Regions from separate parts of the Homo sapiens genome. Here region 1 is linked to region 2. A link means that fine-mapping ties the variant in region 2 to the expression of a gene that starts in the linked region. Tissue or cell type: whole blood. Region 2 holds a variant in brackets; the other region holds the start of a gene. All regions are shown on one strand. Distances are between the middles of the regions.

Region 1 (8,187 bases), 55 kb before region 2:
AACAAACAAACAAACAAACAAACAAAAAAGAATTGGGTAATTAGGGCCAGGCACGGTGGCTCATGCCTGTAATCCTAGCACTTTGGGAGGCCAAGGAGGGTAGATCACCCGAGGTCAGGAGTTCAAGACCAGCCTCGCCAATACGGTGAAACCCTGTCTCTACTAAAAATACAAAAAGTGCCAGGCCTGGTGGCAGGTGTCTGTAATCCCAGCTACTCAGGAGGCTGAGGCAGGAGAATCACTTGAACCCAGGAGGTGGAGGCTGCAGTGAGCTGAAATTGCACCAGTGCACTCCAGCCTGGGCAACAGAGTAAAACTCTGTCTCAAAAAAAAAAAAAAAAAAAGAAAAGAAAAGAATTGGGTACGTTTTCTTACCATATTTCCATACTAGCTTATATCCCAGAAAGATGACAAAAACTATAAAATTATAAAAGATATTATAAATTCAATTAAAAGAGTTAAGAATCACAGTCATTTAGTTGGTTCTTCAAATAAAATGGGTAAATATAATGACCTATTATCTTCTTTGAATTCTTCCTGAAAAGTTTCTTTCACTTTATTTGGCACCTATCTTGATTTGTATTCCCATGATATAATCATTAAGGAATTTAATAAAGATTTTACAATGACTACTTTAAGGTACACAGAACAGATAACTCAATTCCAATATAACCATCCACTTACTATGTGATTAATGACTTAAACCAAAGTATTTAACTTGTTTAGATAGTATATTTTTCTAGATCAAAGAAAATGTAGAAAATCAGACTCAGCACATGCCAGTTCATCTGTGTTTTGAAGCTGAAGCAGGCTGGATTTCTGAGAAGCACAGAGATGCCGACTTTCGTTCCAAGTTTTCTGTTCACTGGAAATGAAGTAACAGTTGCACCGGTACCCAACCCATTTTTCTTGGCAAGAACAGCAGTCAGAGTCTGACAGAAAACATAAAGCATGACTAATGACACTGGAGACTAGACATTTTTTTCAATGCTATTTAATTATTCAAAAATTATTTGCTGTGTATTCTTTTAACATTCAGAATCTACTGTATACACCACACTTCAGGGGCTACTAATGTGAACTAATTAGACATGAACATGATGCTTTTTCCTCATGGAGATTATATTCTAGAGATAGAATTACAATTATATAATTTTCAATAATTTATTAACGATATTTAGTGATGATTTAGATAAGTACAAAAAAATTAAGTATGTTAAAACAGCATGTAGCAGAGTGTAAGATGAGGGGCAGTTACAAGAACCTTTTTTTGAGGAAGTGACTCAAAACTAAGTACTGTAGCATAAATAGGAGTTAACTAGATGAAAAAGATTTAAAGGAGGAAAACATTTTAGCATACTTTCTGAGTCAGAAAAGAATATGGTACATTTGGAGAATTTTGATATATGTTTGGATATCTTATTTTTGAAAAGGGAATATAAATAAACCAATTATCTTGAGGCTTAATTATACAGTTTATCAATAATAGTGTCTTCAACGTTTGTTACCCACGGTAATAAAAACATGACACGTCATAGGCACTCAAATCTTTGCCATATAAGTAGTGCTGAAGATGTTGCACTATTATTTTTATATTTTTTAATTGTTTTTGAGACAGAGTCTTGCTGTGTTGCCCAGGCTGGAGTGCAGTGGCACCATCTCAGCTCCCTTCAACCTCCGCCTCCCAGGTTCAAGTGATTCTCATGCCTCAGCCTCCTGAGTAACTGATACTACAGGTGCGTGCCGCCATGCCTGGCTAATTTTTGTATTTTTAGTACAGACGGGGTTGGCCTGTCTTGAACTTCTGACCTCAAGTAATATGCCTACCTCAGCCTCCCAAAGAGCTGGGATTACAGACGTGAGCCACTGTGCCTGGCCAAGATGTTGCACTGTAAATAAACACTATATAATCAAGATGATGGTGAGACAACTTGGGGCGCATTCCGAAAAATACATATTTAGAAAATTGAGGCCGGGCGCAGTGGCTCTGCTGGGTACGGCATAATCCCAACACTTTGGAAGCCGAGGCAGGTGGATGACCTGAGGTCAGGAGTTCGAGACCAGCCTGGCCAACATGGCGAAACCCTGACTCTACTAATAACACAAAAATTAGCTGGGCATGGTGGCGGGCGCCTGTAGTCCCAGCTACTTGGGAGGCTGAGGCAGGAAGGTGGGAGAATCACTTGAACCAGGGAGGCTGATGTGGCAGTGAGCCAAGATCGTGCCACTGCACTCCAGCCTGGACGACAAGAGCAAAACTCCATCTCCAAAAACGAAAATTGGACTTTGAGCTGGCTTTCACTGGATAAGTAAGGTTTAGAAATCTGTGCAGTATATTCTGGAAAAGGAAAAGTAGTGAGATGCAAAAGTATAGGTTATAAGCAAATTCAGGCAGGTAATGAGGATTAACTGTAACATTTCCTGTGGTTTATTTTTTGTTACTTAATTATGAGCACTCATATAGGAAACATATCTTTCGTTTCAGGCTACTATTTTCCTGATTAGTTAAATGTACAAATGATACACATTCAGTGTAATTTAATCATTTTTACATTAGATTGAGCAATGTAAAATGAGACTATCCTACACTGGTAGGCAAATTTCTATTACTAAGTATAATATTCCATCATGCCTCTCTGTGTGAAAAACAAGAAACTGCCTATTTAATCTTTTACCAATGCTAAGTTTTCCAAAAAATGTGACCTACCTTTCTGGAGTTCTATGTTGGGTCCTGGAGTAAATGCTGGCTCAATACTCAGTTTAGTAAAAGCTATAAGAAATGATTAGAAATTTGTTTAATTAGGTATGGGTTTATGAAATACTAAAATATTACACATTAGCAAGATGAAGCCTTTATTATTAAATGATGTCTTCACAGTTTTGATTTTTATGGAGACTTGCTTAGAAAAACTTACAATTTTTCAACAAAATTCCCAACGTAGACATCAACGAAAGGCATATTATCCCTAAGGTCCCAGAAATTAACCTCCACAGAGTGGTCTTAAACACTGTAGAGAAAGACAGACAGAGTAATGACTTAAAGAGCAAACTCAGGAGCTGAGTTCTTAAAAGCAGAAACTAGTGACGGAGAATCCACAACATTCTTTCATTTGATAACGGAGTCATCTTGCCAATAAAACACTGAAGACTTTCCAATCGGGACTTCACCCAATACCAACATTTTTATGTGATGTATCTTATTCTTCAGGAAGATTATTCAAACATTTTCTTCTCTACCAGCTCTGTTGCAGTAAAGTGAATTTACCATTTATTTTAAATTGGCAGAGGTGCTTAAAGATCTGGAGGTAGAAGATATTAACAAGCACCACGTTGTGTTTTATGGACTTACATAACAGGCATTTATTTTTATTCTCTCAACAAAATCACAAGATAGATAGTATGGTTCTCATTACATAGATGAGAAAACATAAGGTCCAATAATAATGTTATTTTCTCAAGGTATCAAAGCAAGTAAGTATCCAAGTCAGAAATCACATGAAAGTGTGTCTAGCTCAAGAATCTTTCATTCAACGTAGTCTACCATTGTCACAATAATACTAGTTGAGAGTATGCCCTCTCCTCATCTCAGTGCAGGTTTTGCTCTGATAAATGTCTAGCTGCTCATTGGTTCGTAGAGATATTATAGGGAAAAGAAGACATAGGAACATTCTGGACTTGGTGTGATAACTGATAACAAATTGATGGGTAACAACTTTGAGGCCTGGCTTCATTTCACAGTATATTGAACATACATAAACAATCCTTTTTCCCCTAGAACATTCCATTTGTTCATACTCAAAATTACTTGCTTTTAGGCCTTTCACCTAAAACATTTCAACATTAGGAGATTCTGTGCTAACGTGAACACACTCTCAAAGAGTGATGTCATTAACAACAGTACAATGTGTCAAACTGTTCATTTGTGTAATTTTTGGATGTCACAACATAAATAGTCAATTAAAACCTTTTCAGCATTGTGTCATTAATATTTGGCATTTTCTATTGCTATACTAGAACACTGTTGCTCACAATTTAACCAGGCTAAAGTTCAGTTCTCACTCAGAATTTAAAGGTAGCCCTGTCAGAAACCACTCTTCAAACCTGTGGAAAAAACTTCATGAAATCATGTCTAAGTTATACAATGAAGAATCAGGAAAATATAATGAATGTGGAAAGTGCTAATGCATGAAAATCCTAAAAACATCCACTGTTAATCATGTCCTTTTCTCTTAAAGCATTACCCCAAAATCAGCCAATCCAAGAAATAGCTTTTCTGGTTATTTTTAATTTAGTGACTGAAATCACACATACCTGCCATGAGAAATTATGTTCCAAGAGCGAAGTAGAGAAGGCACGATGTGTACTTTTTCAGAAAGAACAGCGTTGAATTGTTGAAGCTGAGCTGGAGATTAAAGAATCTGAAAGTTGAGTATGAAGAAATTTAGCAAAAATAGAGAATGAAAAATTGTGTATTTAAATGATGTTCTTGAATCATCTATTGGTGAGACATGTATTATAGTGTGAATAAGAAGCAGTAGAATCACAAGCCTCTGAAGTGTTCCAGGAACCACAATACAGGAAATTCTCACAGTACTTTTGCAATATTAACACTTTGGCAAGGACTAAAGAAGGTGAGAGGAGGTCAGAGGGAGTTTTGTTGCTGTTTTGTTTTTTATTGTTTGAAAATCAAATTCATTTTAAAGGGTTATCTGGAAAATGAAGGAAATGATGGGCAAACCAAAGGTAAATTTACTTAGCATAACAAAATTACTTACAGAATTTTCCTCTTTTAATAATAAACATTTATTATTTACCTTGTACTTAACACAATTTAAAGCACTTGGCATATCTTAGCTCATTTATTTCTGTAAATGGCTTGATAGTAAAGATATATAAATATCTTCAATCTATCAAAGAGAAAACTGAGGCATACAGAGCTAAGTAATTTGCCCAAGGTCACATAAATTGGGATTTCCATGTCTCACTCTGTTCTTCTGATCTCTACCTAATTATCCTGGCCACGACAGGCAAAGTTCAAAAAAGTAGAACTGGATGGGTTTCCCACTTGGACGCCTCATTCACGTTAGCCTTAAAAGCTTTTTTCAACACCTCAATTTTCATTTTCTTAAAGTTCTTTAAGCACGACTTCAGCTTCTTTATTTTCCTTATTTTTACTAATACATTATTATATTGTTTAGTGTGTTATCTAATTCAGATACTATACTGATACTTCGATATACACTTTTTCATCTACAGAAGAGTAACCTTGTTAATAGGAATATCAAATGTGGAACAGGTCAAATTTCCAATGTGGAAGAGATTGGCTATAATAAGAATCTTGAAAGGAGAGATTTCGATCCATGATTTAGTATCTGGAAATACAATCTACCATGCACCCCCATACAAAAGCAGACACTCAAATAAACGTTTTGTGTATTATATTTTGTATATTGTTTATGTTCAAGCATTATAATATTACTATAGATAAACCCTTTTGTAAAAGATGGGCTTTCAACCAACAACAGAAAAAAATGAAAGAAAAGACTACTTTGACTTCTCAGTTTTTATGAAGTCAAAACTTTCCATCTTTTCAGTTTGCATTGTGTGCCTAGAGCTGCTTTCATTGCACCAACAAATTTGTTGAGCTATAAATCCTCACTGAAGAATATAAGCGTAAAATCTACTTCATCCAGACTGTATGCAAATCTTAGTTGAAGTGATTTATTTAAAAATCCTTTGCTTACTTGAAATCTATTCATTTTTAGTGTTAGAAAAAGCTGGTCTGGAAGAAACCTGTCTGATACTATTTTTCCCCCATGTAAAATTGCCTCAAAATATAGGAGATTAGGGGTTTGCTTTTAGTTTTTCTCTTGAGAGAGTACAAATTTATGACAGAATGTGCAATAGGGATTATTACTACACTTTCATTACTAACACAACCACCTTTATTTGGAAGTTAGAGGTTCTAAGTTTTTAGAACCCTGTTTGGTGAGAATACGTCCATCAGTCATTGTCCTTTTTTTCATCTTAGTTCACTGACTTAGAAATAAAAATCCAACAAATACAAGTTTACTTCAAGAACTCCAGGCTTAAATATTTAAGATACCTAAACACACACACACACACACACATACACACACACAGTAAACATATATGTATATACCTCTTTAACTCTTTCTGAGCTGCCAACTCTGATTGTTCTTTTTTTGTTTGTTTTTGTTTGTTTGTTTTTTGAGATGGAGTCTCTGTCACCCAGGCTGGAGTGCAGTGGCTCACTCGGCTCACTGCAAGCTCCGCCTCCCGTGTTCACGCCATTCTCCTGCCTCGGCCTACCGAGTAGCTGGGGCTACAGGCTCCCGCCACCACGCCCAGCTAATTTTTTGTATTTTTTTTTTTTAGTAGAGACGGGGTTTCACCGTGTTAGCCAGGATTGTCTCGATCTCCTGACCTCGTGATCCGCCCGCCTCGGCCTCCCAAAGTGCTGGGATTACAGGCGTGAGCCACCGTGCCCGGCCTCTGTTCTTTCTATTTATTTTTGTACGTAGACAGGTGAATGATTTCCATGTACTGTATCTCTCCCACTCATCTCCACTTGTTCCTGAAGTTATCATTGCCTCGCCTATGTCCCTTGGAATATTTGGGGAACTATGGCCAACTAGTTATCTGTATAGCTGTATCTATGGGTTCTTTTTTTCTCCAATAACTGCTGAAAGCCTTGCTGTTCTCAGACATGCTAATCCGGAAGTGCTGAATAATCATCACCAGAATGGGCGTCAACAAACGAATCTTGTGATTTGCTATACAGTCCAGCAGTCTCAGCCCTAAAGTCAGGTAATTCTGAACATTGTGTTTTGCCCAGTTCCCAGAATTACTCAATAGTGTTATGTTCCAGTCACCTCCTCTAGAAGCTAGATTAAGAAAATAACCTTTATTGCGTTCCACTTTCCCTTTCCTATTACATTTCCTTTCCTACATTTATTGCATACACAATTCCAAATAAAGTTTCTACTCAAAGTATTCTCTGAGTGTGCTGCCGAGAGAAACCAGACTAAATTCCGCTGAAATATCCAGCTTCACTTACATAAATTTGCTTTTGAAAAGTTAGGTATCCTGCCAAAAGAACGTCTCTCTTTGCAGGACTTTCCATCCCCTAGTATCCATTGCAGGAAGATGCCCTCTTCCTCCCCTGCAATTTACTAGTGCCCTTGGTAAGAGCAAGTGATGACTTCAATAGCTAAGTCAACTTTTAAACCTTAGTCAAAAGCCAGGGAAAAGAAACTAATGTTCACTTAACATATAAACAGTGAAGTCTTTTCCCTACCTAAAAATGTATAACTAAAATGTTGCAGAACAAAATAACAGTATACGTTCTAGTATCCCCAAGGGAAAAATTTATTTTGATCTCACTGCTTTTAGAAAATGCATTCTTTGAGCGGAAAGAAAATTGCTCACATCAGGCTGCAAATTATTCTTTTAACAGAGAGAGAGGGCTCCCTGAGAAAAAACAAAAGACGTTACTGACCTGGTAAAATCTCATTGTAAACATGCTAATAACAAACCTACTAGCTATAGTGGTTTCTTATATATAGTGTGTTTTGCTTGCAAAATCCTTATCAATGGAATGATTTTAGCAGGATGTATTAGATTGTCTAAAATTGTTAGTGGTAAAATCAAATAAAAAAATAAAACTAAGGCTGGGCATAGTGGCTCACGCCTGTAATCTCAGCTCTTTTGGAGGCCAAGGCAGGTGGATCACCTGAGGTCAGGAGTTCAAGGCCAGCCTGGCCAACATGGAGAAACCCTGTCTCTACTAAAAATACAAAATTAGTCGGGCATGGTGGCACTCACCTGTAACCCCTGCTACTTGGGAGGCTGAGGCATTAGAGTCTCTTGAACTTGATGAGCTGAGATCGCACCATTGCACTCCAGCCTGGGTGACAAGAGCAAAACACACTATATAAAAAAAAAGCATAAAACTAGAATCTGTGGGTTTATGGAGGCTGGCTTCCTGGAAAAATGTCACATAAGCTATGTGTAACCATAACCATGTAACCATCTGAGTATAAAATGGAGATGTGTCATAACCAAAACATCTCCTTTTGTGTAAACGGTGCAGCCACAAACACCATTAAGAGACCTCATATGTTTATCTGTTTGTCTGGGCCAGAGTGTGTCCTAAGGGGAAAG
Region 2 (8,187 bases):
GAAAAATAACTAAAGAAAAGTGGGTGATACATAGAACAAAATGAGAATATCAACAAATAGAAAATATTAATATAAAAATCAAACAAATTCTAGAGACGAAAAATTAAATAACAGAACTGAAAAATATACTGTTACTACAAAAAAAAAAAAAAAAAAAAAGAATCAGCTACCTGGAAAGTAAACCATTTGAAATTACTGAGTCAGAAGACAAGAAATTTTTTAAAAGAACAGAGAAAAGTGAACAGAGACTAAGAGATTTAATGGACGTTATTTAACAGACCAATATACCCATTATAAGTGTCATAGAATAGGAAAAGAAAGAGTATTTAAAAAATAAAGAAATTTGCCAAATTTGATTTTAAAAAAAAATCATGAATCTTACAAATCCAAAAAGCTTAATGAAGTCCAAGTAGCATAAATGAAAAGAGACCCACAATAAGATATAATCAAACTGGCAAAAGCCAAAGCCAAGCAGCAAATCTTAAAAAAAAAAAAAAAAAAAGAAAAGAAAAGAAAAAACAAAACAAAACAAGAAAATATTTGTCACAAACAAGGGCTCCTTGATAAAATTACCAGTGGAGTGTCCAGCAGAAGCTTTGGAGGCCACAAGGCAGAGAGGTGGTATATCTAAAGTTATGAATTAAAAAAAACTGTCAATCAAAATTTTAATATCTGGCAAAACCATCCTTAAAAAATGAGGGTGAAATTAAAGCATTTCAAGATAAAAAAAATCTGAGGCAGTTTATTGCACTAAACCTGCCCTAAGAGAAAAGCTAGAGAGAGTTCTATAGAGTAAAATGGAAGGATGCAAGACAATAATTCATCATCATCATATGAAGATATAAAGATCTCTGGTAAAGATAAATGCATCAGCGAAATATAATGCCCAACATCATTAAGATTTTGGTGTGTAATTTCACTTTTTATTTTTTATAACATTTAGAAGCAATTGAATAAATTAATAATAAATCTATGTTAATAGTTACAAAATAAATACAGATGTAATTTATGATATTGATATCATAAAGCAGAGGGGTGGAGCTGTGTAGGAGTAGAGTTTTAGTTTGCCACTGAAGTTGTTAGTATTGATTAAAAATAGGTTGTTAAAAATTTTAAATATTATAAATAATCTTTAAGTTAACACAAATTATAGAATATACACAAAAGGAAAGGAGAAGATAATGAAAATGTGTCTCTACAAAAAAAAAAAAAAAAACAGCTAATCACAAAGAAAGTCAATAATGGAAAAAATGAGTGGGAAAATAACTATAAGACACCCTGAAATAAATAGGAAAATGGAAAATATAAGTCCTTCCCCATCAGTAATTGCATTAAATATAAATGAATTAAAATTCCCAATTAAAAGGCATGGATGGGCAGAATTGATAGCAAAAACAGGATCTAATAAGAAGGTGTCTATAAAAGACTCACTTCAGACCTGAAAACACATATAAGTTGAAAATGAAAGAATGGAAAAGATATTCCAAGCAAAGAGTAACCAAAAGAAATTGGGATGGCCATACTAATGTCAGATAAAGTAAATGTATATATATAAAAGACAAAGAATATCATATATTAATAAAAGTGTCAATTCCTCAAGAATAAATCACAATTATAAACATATAGGCACTAAATATCAGAACCTTTAAATATATGAAACAAACTTTGACATAACTGAAGAGACAAATAGATAGCTCTCCAATAATACTTGGAGAATGTAATGCCTATGTCCAATAATGCAAAAAACAACCAGAACAATAAGAAAGTAGAGGACTTGAGCAACACTATGGACCAACTGGACCTAAAAGACATATGGAATATTCCAACCAACAGCAGCAGAATATACATTTTTTTGAAGTGCACATGGAGAATTCTTCAGGACAGACTATATGTTAGACCACAAAACTGGTCTTAATTAATTTTAAAAGAGTAAACTCATAGAAAGCATTATTTCCTATCACAATGGAATGAAACTAGAATTCAGTAACAGAAGTAAAACTAAAAATTTGAAAATTAGTTAGAATGTAAACAACACTTTTAAATAACCAATGAGTCAAAGAAAAAATACAAGGGAAATTAGAAAATATCTTAAAGCTAATGAAAATAAAAACACAACATACCAAAACATACGGGATGCAACAAAAGTAGTGCTTAGAGGCAAATTTATATCTTTAAATACATTGGAAAGAACATCTTAAACCAACAACCTAACTTCATCCCTTAAGTAACTAGAAAAAGGAAAATAAATTAAACCCAACGCCAGCCAAATGAACAATAAATACTAGAAGGTATGTACATAAAATAGAGTGGAAAATAGAGAAAATAAACAAAGCCAAAAGTTGGACCTTAGAAAAGATTAACAATATTAGTAAACCTTTAGCTACAATGAATAATTTTTAAAAGTCCTCAAATTACTAGTAGATATAAGACACTGCAGTTTAGCTCTTTGAGGAATCTCCGTACTGCTTTCCACAAGGGTTGAACTAATTTACACCCCCACTAACAGTATATAAATATTCCCTTTTCTCTGCATCCTCACCAGCATCTATTATTTTTTGACTTTTTAATAATAGGCATTCTGACTGATGTGAGACAGTGTCTCATTGTGGTTTTGATTTGCATTTTTCTAATGATCAGCGATGTTGAGCTTTTTTCATGTGCTTGTAGGCCACAAGTATGTCTTCTTTTGAGAAGTGCCTGTTCATGTCCTTTGCCTACTTTTCTTTTTTTTTTTTAATTTATTTATTTTTGAGACTGATCTCGCTCTGTTGCCTAGGCTGGAGTGCGGTAGCGCAATCTCAGCTCACTGCAATCTCCGCCTCCTGGGTTCAAGTGATTCTCCTGCCTCAGCCTCCAGAGTAGCTGGGATTACAGGCAGGCGCCACCACGCTTGGCTAATTTTTCCTTGTATTTTTACATGAGACAGGGTTTCACCATGTTGACCAGGCTGGTCTCAAACTCCTAACCTCAGGTGATCCACCAGCCTCAGTCTCTCAAAGTGCTGGGATTACAGGTGTGAGCCACCACGCCCAGCCTTTTGCCTACTTTTTAATGGGGTTGTTTGTTTTTCTCTGGTAGATTTGTTTAAGTTCCTTCGAGATGCTGGATATACATTAGTCCTTTGTCAGGTGCATAGTTTGCAAATATTTTCTCCCAGTCTGTACATTGTCTGTTTACTCTGTTGATAGGTTTTTTTTTTTTTTTTTTTTTGAGACGGAGTGTGGCTCTGTCGCCCAGCCTGGAGTGCAGTGGCGCGATCTCGGCTCACTGCAAGCAAGCTCCGCCTCCCGGGTTCACGCCATTCACCTGCCTCAGCCTCCAGAGTAGCTGGGACTACAGGCGCCCTCCACCGCGCCCTGCTAATTTTTTGTATTTTTAGTAGAGACGGGGTTTCACCACGTTACCCAGAATGGTCTCGAGCTCCTGACCTCGTGATCCACCCGTCTCGGCCTCCCAAAGTGCTGGGATTACAGGCGTGAGCCACCATGCCCTGCCCTCTGTGGATAGTTTCTTTTGCTGTCCAGAAGCTCTTAAGTTTCATTAGATCCCACTTGTCAATTTTTGCTTTTGTTGCGATTGCTTTTGGTGTCTTTGTCACGAAATCTTTGCCCATTCCTGTCTGTGTCCAAGATGGTATTGCCTAGGTTGTTTTCCAGCGTTTTTATAGTTTTAGACAGAACTACCATTCAATTCAACAATCCCATTACTGGGTATATACCCAGAAGAATATAAATCCTTCTACCACGAAGACACATGCATGTGAATGATAACTGCAGCACTTGTCGCAATAGCAAAGACTTGAATTCAACCTAAGTGCCCATCAATCACAGATTGAATAAAGAAAATGTGGTACATATACACCATGGAATACTGTGCAGCCATGAAAAAAGAATGAAATCCTGCCTTTTACAGGAACATGGATGGAGCTGGGGGCTACTATCCTTAGCAAACTAATGAAGAAACAAAACTAAACACCTCATGATCTCATTTATAAGTGGGAGCTAAATGATAAGAACTTATGAACACAGAAAAGGAAATCACAGACACCATGGTCTACTCAAGGGGATAGGGTGAGAGAAGGGAGAGGAGCAGAAAAGGTATCTATTGGGTACTGGGTATAATGCCTGAGTGATGAAATAATCTGTACAACAAACCCCCATGACACATGTTTACCCATGTAACAAACCTTCACAGGTAGCCCCAAACCTAAAATAAAAGTTAGAAAAAAA[AG/G]ACACTGTGAAAGAAAAGATGCCCGAATCCGAAGACATTGCAATGAAAACTAAACAAAATGAAACACATTAAAGAGCATTTAAAAAGTGTATGAACGGAGTATCAGTGACCTGCGGGACAGCTGCAAGGGGCCCAACGTACGCCTAAAAGCAGTCTCTGGATACATAGGAGGGGGCAAAAAGTATTCAAAGAACTTACAGTTGAAAACTGAGATTTAAATACTGAAATTGAAATGTTTCCAAATTGCTAGAACTATAAGCATATAGATCTAGAAAGTCCACGAACCCCAAGCAAAAGAAACATAAGAAAATCTACTTACATGTACATTATAATTAAGTTCTTCAAAACTAGTGATAAAAAAATATTAAAAGCATTAGATAAGAAATGTTTTATGCAGAGGATTGTCAAACTTTGTTTATTAAAAGTTAAATTATTCATCTTTTTTTTTTTTTTTTTTACAACTGCCCACTGACTCACTCAGGACAGCAAAGCCAGTAATGCTATGTTCAATCAAGCATTCTAGGCCCAAGTCACAACTCACACCACTGCACTCCCAACCCTGGTTCATTCCCTTTTGTGTACACACAGCTGCGATAGTTTTACTCCCTACCACCCCCACCATTCTTCTTCAGTGTCATGTCTTGGTTCACTTGAATCACCTTCCTCTGAAAGTTATTCCTCTTTCTCAAAGATGAAGTCTTCATGTTCATATACATTCTCAAGACACATCCTCTCATGGAATCTACTGTCTTCCCTGTAATGGTCATTCATTTAGTGCCCTTGCTTGTTTAAGACAACTAATGATTCTATACAATCATGAATTCAAATCTTAAGTAACATGAGGGAAGAAGAACTAACTTCTTATAACTTGAGAATGTGGTGGGGTTTGTTTGTTTGTTTGTTTTTTGGAGACAAGTTCTCATTTTGTTGCTCAGGCTGGAGTACAGTAGCGCAATCACAGCTCACTGCAGCCTCAACCTCCAAGGCTTGAGTGATTCTTCCACCTCAGCTTCCCAAGCAGCTGGGACTACAGGTGCACATCGCCACGCCCAGCTAAGTTTTGTATTATTTATAGAAAATACGTAATACACCTGCACATCACCACACACAGCTAATTTTTGTATTATTTATAGAACATACATTTATAGAACATAAATATGTTGCTGAAGCTGGTCTCAAAATCCTGAGTTCAAGGGATTCACCTACATCAGCCTCCCAAAGTGCTGGGATTATAGGTGTAAACCACCATACCTGGCCTAGTGTCTTTTCAATGACAAAAACAAGAGTAAGATTATCCACTTCAATAAGCAAAAAGCAGTAATTTAATTTGATGTGATTTTTAAGAAAATCTTTGTTTCCTCTGAGGAACTGGTATGTTGTCTCTCCAGAATTCAGGAGAAATGTGTAATTGACCAGACCAGAGGTCCCCAAGCCCCAGGCCACAGACCGGTACTGTGGCCTGTTAGGAACCTGGAGCACAGCAGGAGGTGAACAGGGAATGAGTGAGCAAAGCTTCACCTATATTTACAACCACTCCCCATTGCTGGCATTACCACCAGAGCTCTGCTTCCTGTCAGGTCCGCAGAGGCATTTGATTCTCATAGGAGCACAAACCCTGTTGTGAACTGCACATGCGAGGGATCTAGGTTGTGTGCTTCTTATGAGAATCCAATACCTGATGATCTGTCACTGTCTCCCGTCACCCCCAGATGGGACTATCTAGTTGCACAAAAATAAGCTCAGGGCTCCCACTGATTCTACATTACGGTGAGTTGTAGAATTATTTCATTATATATTACAATGTAATAATAATAGAAATAAAGTGCACAATAAATGTAACGCACTTGAACCATCCCAAACCATCCCCCTCTTGCTCCCATCCATAGAAAAATTATCTTTCATGAAACCGGTCCCTGGGGCCAAAAAGTTTGGGGACCACTGGACCAGACCATTCCTTTTTGTGTTTGCCAAAGAAATAGCATAAAAGGGCTGGGCATGGTGGCTCATACCTGTAATCCCAGCACTTTAGGAGGCTAAGACCGGAGGATTACCTGAGGTCAGGAGTTTGAGACCAGCCTGGACAACATGGTGAAGCCCTATCTCTACTAAAAATACAAAAACTAGCCCGGCTTGGTGGTGCTTGCCTGTAATCGCAGCTACTCGGGAGGCCAAGGCAGGAGAATTGCTTGAACCTGGGAGGCGGAGGTTGCAGTAAGCCAGGATCGCACCACTGCACTCCAGCCTGGGCAACAGAGTGAGACCCCATCTCAAAAAGAAAATAGTATAATAACAAATAATCACTCACTGTCCCAAACTCCAGAGTGAAAGGTTAGTATGTTAACATCTGTAGTTAATGCTAGTGAGGCAACATATGTTAGCTCCAGTTTATGGAACTTCAGAAATCCCGATTACAAAATTATGACTACATTAAATAAGTCGTTGATAATGATGGTAAATGAACGAAACATGGCACTTGCGGCTGCTTTCAATTATCCTTTCCTTAACCAGAAAACATGCTCTTAAATACCTGAGACTTTCTCCTGGTCTGGATCTTCTCTAGCTTCACAGACCCAAGACCCTTTATATTACCTTAATACGCTATCCATTTTTAAAGTATTATGTGACTTTGAAACCACTTCGTACTGACTTGCCTCAACATATAATGGAAGTTAATAATCAAAGGGGTGTTGCAAATGTAAATTTTAAAATGTGTTTAAAAGGTAACTGATAAATTAATACCCAAGTTTTATCTAGGTCAAGCAGAAAACTTTGGGACAAATACAAAAATTAGCCTGGCATGGTGGCGGGAGCCTGTAGTCCCAGCTGCTCTGGAGGCTGAGGTAGGAGAATCAGTTGAACCCAGGAGGCAGAGGTTGCAGTGAGCGGGAGATTTTGCCACTGCACTCCAGCCTGGGCAACAGAGTGAGACCCCGTCTCAAAAAAAGAAAAGAAAAGAAAAGAAAAGTTTGGAACAATGTGACACAGAAGCAGATGTTCTTAACCTTCTCTTTGTCTAGCTACAGAACCCAAACCAAGGGGAAGGATCTTTAACAGGAATAATACATGTTACTGAAAGGGCTCTGGCGCCTTTGGGTATGCTAAAATGTTTGGGGCCAAATGACTCAGGGGAACTTTTTTCTTTGCTCATCCTTTCTTGGTTTCCAGCACTCATAACAGCCCCCCTAAAAAAAAAAAAAAAAAAAAAAAAAAGCAAAACGTTATCACCACCTTGGGAAATGGTAAGGACTTAAGAGAGAGAGTGGTTGAGGGGATGTAAATGTTTCCTTCTAGGTTGACAGCCTAACGCACCAGGATAGAAATAAAGGCAGAGACTCAGGACAGAAGTTGAATTCCTAGGAAATCTGAGCATGACGGACAACGTATGTACAACAAGTGATCCTAATGGTCTTCGAGAAAACAAAAGGACTACTATACTCCTCACTTTGTTAGAGTTGAAAACCATAAAGCTAGAGTGATGGCAGCTCCTGCGAACTCTGATGAAACCACAAAGGAAGTCATTGGGTCAAGAAATGCATTACGAGCCACCATGGGACACTACCACCCTTCTGCTTAGCAGAGCTCAGAGTAAGGGTCCCTTCCTGTGTGAAAGGCACTGACTGCTACAGCCTCCAGGAGTCCTTCTCACTGCATATGTGTGATAAATGTGAGATTCATTATTTTGTTCTTTGTAGAAAATTAAGTATGAAATAATTTCTTACTCTTTTTTCAAGTTGTTTCAAGGATGCTTCTCAATAAATTCTTTTTTAAAAAATTGACGATTTCCCCAAGAGTTTCTCCACTGGTTGCAAACCGTATATTTAATTTTCTTGGAAGCATTTTGATATATGATAAGGGCACAAGTTTGATACCAGAGAAGGCAAGATATTAGTTTGAGTTGTGTCACTTACTATATTTATAACTTTGGTCCAGTTGAATTCCCTAATCTACTTTTTCCAC

Evidence for each region. PIP is the estimated chance that this variant, and not a neighbour inherited with it, causes the effect.
Region 1: KLRD1 starts here. The variant in region 2 is fine-mapped to the expression of KLRD1 in whole blood (TOPMed, PIP above 0.99).

The regions. Positions count from the first base shown.
Region 1 is chr12:10,304,209-10,312,395 of GRCh38, reverse strand. KLRD1 (killer cell lectin like receptor D1) reads right to left here and starts at 4,526. Exons shown (of 6, transcript NM_002262.5): 1 at 4,312-4,526; 2 at 2,916-3,008; 3 at 2,708-2,770; 4 at 781-932. The coding sequence starts at 4,318.
Region 2 is chr12:10,249,455-10,257,641 of GRCh38, reverse strand. It overlaps a transcript of KLRD1 not described here. Among named protein-coding and RNA genes, the nearest start is that of GABARAPL1-AS1, 38 kb to the right of the region's middle. The variant AG/G (reference allele first, on the strand shown) is at 4,230.